Linked DNA regions of Homo sapiens: region 2 is linked to region 1. Evidence: fine-mapped expression QTL. Tissue or cell type: atrial appendage. Region 1 holds a variant in brackets; the other region holds the start of a gene. All regions are shown on one strand. Distances are between the middles of the regions.

Region 1 (2,753 bases):
AAGACCCAGCTCACCTTGGGGTTTTGCCAGGTGCTCCAGCACCCCTGGCCTGAGCCCCGAGGCATGACTCCGGGGAGACTGGCGCTCCAATCCCCTCACCACATTTCACCACAGGGAGCAGCCAGGTGAAAGTCTTAACTGTCCATTAGGCCCCTGCAGGGAGGGCAGCCAGTGGATGAGAGACTGTGGGCGAGGCCTCCTGAGGCCCAACCCAAATAAACAAGCCCTGGGGAGGGAACCACCTCAAGAGGCCACAGGGTCTGCAGTTGGAGGCCGGGGTCAGCTGCCAGACTGGGCTACACTCATGTCAGGGATGTTGGGTGGGTGGCTAGGGGGCTTGTGGTGGCTCAGGAAGCCTGAGCTGGGCCAATGAGGTAGGGCGATTGGCGACAGGTAGTGACCAGTTCAAGGACCCTAGCCAGTCAGGGTAGAGCCAGGTCCGGGCCCCCTGCCTCACCCACCCCTTCTAGGCTGCTAACCTGGCCTTCTGCCTCAGTGAGAAAATAGAGGGTATTGACATAACTGCAAATCCACCTTGAAGACTGGAGAGTTGATGGGGTAACCAGGCACCTGGGGACCCTCTACCACTGACAGCACTTGGGACAGATCCAGGACAGGCTGCACCCCTCAGGGCTCTCCCTATAGCCTAGTTCTTGATGGGACTGAGGGGCTGCCCCATGATGGGTGCACAAAAACCCTAATCTGGCTGCTCTGGGGACACACCAGCCACGAGACTGGGTGTGTGACTGGCAGCTCCCCAGGAGGGGGCTAAGGCCTGTCCCTCACCAGCCTGGCACAGGGCTTACAGTAGGGCAAGGGGCCCCTGGAGCCCTCAGGGCACACTATCGGTGCCCAGGCAGGGGGGCTGCGTGCCACTCAGTTACATGCTTCATCAGCTGCTGACATTTTTGCCAACTGCCATGTTAGGTTCCTAAGTGGCCATGCCACACTGCCACCATCCCAGGCGGGGTGGCCCCATGGTCACTCAGCTGTATATGGTGTCCTGTCACACACAGGTTTTGTACACTGTGATGTTAGTTGTCCCATTAATAATTCCCCTTCATATCCAGTACAGAATGCCTGGGATGAACGCTCTCTTTAGAGGGCATCACAGACACAGAACCAGGCCATTACAATCAGCCTGCACGGGCTACAGTGGAGGTCACACAGCAGTGTGGGAGCAGAGAGGAGGGTGCCTGGCCTGGTCTCCTGGGTGGGCGGCCCATTAATAGCACTATCCTCCCCCACCCCCACCTCCTTACATCCCCCTGGAACAGCAGAGATGGAACAGACCTCGTCCCTGCCCTCCTGGGACTCTCTATCCAGAGGGGACAGATGCCCAGACAGGTGGCAGTAGACAGAGCTGTGCAGGAGACACTTGGGAGTGGGGCTGGCCTGCTCCAGGGTGGTAGGGGGCAAGAAAAAGCCTGGGGAGGGCTTTCCAGGGGAGAGGACATCTGAGCAGTCTGAAAGGCTGGGCAGGGGTTTTTGTGGGTGGACAGGGACGAGGGACGCTTGGCAGCAGTAGCGCCAGGTGCAAAGGCTGGGAGAAGCGGGGATAAGGGACTGCTCAGTGGCTGCAGAGGGGCTTGT[T/G]GGGGGACAGAAGCTGGGGAGACAGGGTGTGAGGGCAAGGGGAGCAGATACCCAGGTGGTGGGGACAGGGGGATCCTCCAGGAAGGAGGGACATGTGACTGACCACAAGGTGAGAAAGGCCTGGCGGCTCTGTGGTCCCTCGTCCTCAAGAGGCAACTTCTAGGAGCTTTCACCAGCAAGATTACCTTCACAAAACTCACAGGGGCCTGAAGCCCCCACCACCACCCCCAGCAACGCCTCCCTGTTTTTAAAGTTAAAGTTTAGTTGACTGTCATCCATTACCGCAATTAGTACATTATGTCTAATTATGCAATTAGTGTAAAAAGTGCACTTGCTGCTGAGAATGGGAAATTACGCTGCCTCGTTACGCTGTAAAATCCATGTCATAAAAAGGCTCAATCTCTTGTTTTTCAAAAGACACAAAACCCAACACAAAACAATAAACCAAATCCTCCCAGCCAAGCAAGGGCCAGTCTGTGCCAACCTCCCTGTGCTTGCCCCTGTGCAGAGCCTGCCTGTGAGGCCTGCCCTAAATGTGCCCCCAGGCAAGGCACCACCCACCAGAGACACTGGGCATGGCCCATTCCTGGGTGTAGCCCTTTGCTCCTCTGAAACATACGCGAATTTCCAAACTGACTTGAAAACTGTGGCAATCCTGATTATCCATTTACACCAGGCCTGACTTGAGGCCTCCAGTGTTAAGGCCTGTATCTCAGGGGAGAACAGTCCTAGAAGGAAATGGTATCCACCCAGCTCCAAAATGAGAGGTCCTTTCTCCAAGGTTCCTGATGGCTTCTGTGAACAGGGTTGCAGAATCCAGCTCGGAAGTGGGAGGAACTTTCCCACACTCAGGACTCCCAAAGCCTGAAAGCAACACCTGGATAAGTAGTGAGCCCCCCACCACAGGGACTATTCCAGCCCAGCTGTCAGGAATGCTGAGAAGGGACTCACCCATCATTAGCAAGCACCGTGGCTGGATTCCAGGCTGCCATCGTTAGATAACAGCATTCCTATGGCCGTGTGCCTATGTGAAGCTTGCAGTCTGTGACTTTATCTCCCCTAAATTCTGGCTCCCTTGGTGGTCACGAGGATGCTTTGGGGACAGGTTTGGAGTGAGAAAGAATCAAATGAGGTCTCCCTACTACAGAAGTGACAATCCC
Region 2 (2,627 bases), 140 kb before region 1:
TCAGGACACTTTGGATATAGACCCAACTGTCTCCTCAGATGGGGCCCCAGCAGCACCAGCACTGGGCCTGGCCCACAGTCACACAGCAGTATTGCCTCTGCAGGCTTGGTTCCCCACTGGCTTGAGTTTCGCAGGCACCCTAGATAAGGACCACAGCTTCCTTCCTATATCCACAGGGTGTCCAACGGTCACCAGGTTGGGGGCCCAGACCTCCTGTGCCCAAACCCTACTGTTTTCCCATCTTAACCAAGGTCCTGCCGTCCGGCAGGTCTATGCTGGGGGTTTTCTAGTCGTGGGCGGGCAGCTGAGCCCCCTCCTTCTACTCACCTGCTCCAGAGGGGGCCTCCTGGCTCCCCTTACCTCTCCTGAGCTTGAGGCCAATTAAACACTGGTCAGTAACAGGCACCCCCCTCCCCTCACCTCCCACACCATTCACAGGGCTGTAAGCCCCTCACCTGCATCAGCCACCTCTGCAGCAGCCGCACCCTTTGGTCTAGAGGGAGGAAGCCCCAGGATCCGCCCCTAGGGCTGAGCCCGGGGCTTCCCCGCGGCCTTAACCCCTTCAGTGCCGACCCCACCCACTGTGGGCGGGGCTCCGGGGTCCTCAGAGAGTGGCTTCTCCGTCTCTCCCGGGCCTCGGTTTCCCCCTCCCTCCTAGTGGGTCACAGGCTGTGGAGCTTTTGGGAATGAGGACTTCGAGAGCTCGACTCTGTGGGCAGGTGTGGCTCGGCATGGTCTGGAAACGAACGACTGACGCGGGGAGGGCGTGCAGGGTGGCATGGCCACTTGGGGACCGCACGCGCGGGGTGGACCTACAGGCAGCAAATGGGAAGGGTGCGGTACTGACATGTTGATGCTGGCCTCTGGGATGTTCCGCGTCCTAGCTCCGCACAGCTGGGTATCTCACTCAGTCGCCACCTCGGACTCCTCGGTCCGACAACGTTGGCCCCCAGCGGTGCGGCGGATGTTCTGCAGCCGTCGCGTCCTGCGGCACGCCACGGCGTTCTAAGGCCTCCCAGCACCCGCGCGTCGCCGCTTAGAACCCGCCCCTGGTTTGCGCGTCACAACACCCGCCAGGCGCCGACTCAGTCTCTACCCTGGCTCCGCCCCTGCTGAGCCCCACCCCATCTCCATTTGAGTCCGCCTCCTCCCCACCCGGCCCCATACAGGCCCCTCCTCCTTCTCCTTGCGTCACAGCTTAGGTCCCGCCTCGATTTGGCTTCTTCCAGGCCCTGCCCCAGCCCAGCACGTCACTTCAGCCAGGCGCAGGCCCCGCCTCCAGCTGGCTCTGCCTCCGCCAGCCCCGCCCCAGGCTCTGACAAGTCTAGCTTCGGTTCCCGCCGGCCTCCTGCCCCAGGACAGCTTGGAAACGGTCCGATCAGGTGGGGCTTCCTCTTGAAATTTGGGCCCCACCCTGGGAAGCAGCCGCCCTTAGACTGACGTCAGATCTGGTGAGAGTGACAAGCCTTTCCTGTGCCCTTTGGATACCGGGGCCTGGACATTTTAGGCGCTCAGTAAACAGCTAAGTAAATCATGACTGCTTTATTTGCTGGACTGGTGCCTCTCAGCAGATTCAGGGGTCGTGCAGGGCTGGTTACCACAAACTCAGTAGGAGTGCAAGGGCTGTACCCCCGGAGCTAGACAGCCTGGGTTTGAATCTCAACTTCTCCCTTTTCTTGCTGTGCAACCTTGGGCAACGTGCTTACTCTCAATGTGAGTGACTCAGTTTCCTCATAGCCTCATTGTGAGGAATGAATAAGTCCACATAAAACGCTTAGCACGGGGATTGGCAAAGAGTAGGCACTCAGTGAATGTCAGCCTTTGTGATTGCTGCAGTTCAAAGACTGGCTCAGTGTCTCTGGAGGAATTGTCTATGACCTTGCCAAGTAGATGCATATGGACATGGAATGAATGGTGTCTGCTGTGGTTCTAACTCCTTATGCCACTATTCCAGTCTGTAAGTATGCATGTGTGTGCAGGGAATATGCCTGTGACAGTGGCTGAGTGTACTCTTTACTGTGACCATGACTTGTATGACTGTGCATGTATTTGAGGAAGCCCTGGCCAGACCCAGAGTGCATTAGGTTCTCAATATGTGCAACTCAGTGTGTGGCCAATCACCACATGCTCTTCCGCTCACACCACGGTGCCTGCCAGCCAGGGTAGCATCGACATTTGAACTCCACAGCCATCTGTGCCTGATCTTCAAGTGAGAGGGCACCCCGCAGGCTCAGGGGCCCACCACCAGGCGTGAGCTGGATGGAGAAACTGGCAGGGTTAAGGAGGAGGAGGGCTTTGGGGTGGCTGGTGCGGCGGACACAGCGGCCATGGCCGGAGCACAGGGCTTGACTGCAGAGAAGGGCCCCACTGGTCACGTTCAGGATGAAGGGCCCCAGTGTAGTGTCCATATACTCCTTGATGGCCTGACATGATTCCTAGGTGGGAAGGGAGGATAGCGTCAGGGACACCATGGCCATGTATGGACCCACCCAGGGCACTGAGGCACTCACCTGCTGGTCAGCCAGGACTTTGCAGGTAGAAAGGGTAAGTCAGGGTCTACCCCGTCAGCTTAATGGCCCCACCCCTCCCCCACCCCCACCCTCATGCCAGGCCTAAGCTCACCTTGG

The links. PIP is the estimated chance that this variant, and not a neighbour inherited with it, causes the effect.
Region 2: it holds the start of NAA80, and the variant in region 1 is fine-mapped to the expression of NAA80 in atrial appendage (GTEx, PIP 0.94).

The regions. Positions count from the first base shown.
Region 1 is chr3:50,439,463-50,442,215 of GRCh38, forward strand. The region is part of intron 2 of CACNA2D2 (calcium voltage-gated channel auxiliary subunit alpha2delta 2); the gene reads right to left. Among named protein-coding and RNA genes, the nearest start is that of CACNA2D2, 63 kb to the right of the region's middle. The variant T/G (reference allele first, on the strand shown) is at 1,594.
Region 2 is chr3:50,298,366-50,300,992 of GRCh38, forward strand. NAA80 (N-alpha-acetyltransferase 80, NatH catalytic subunit) reads right to left here and starts at 1,040. Exons shown (of 2, transcript NM_001200016.2): 1 at 848-1,040. It overlaps HYAL3 (hyaluronidase 3), which reads right to left and starts at 1,040. Exons shown (of 4, transcript NM_003549.4): 1 at 848-1,040. It overlaps HYAL1 (hyaluronidase 1), which reads right to left. Exons shown (of 4, transcript NM_033159.4): 3 at 2,623-2,627; 4 at 1,528-2,435. The coding sequence ends at 2,118. RefSeq lists an enhancer at 634-773.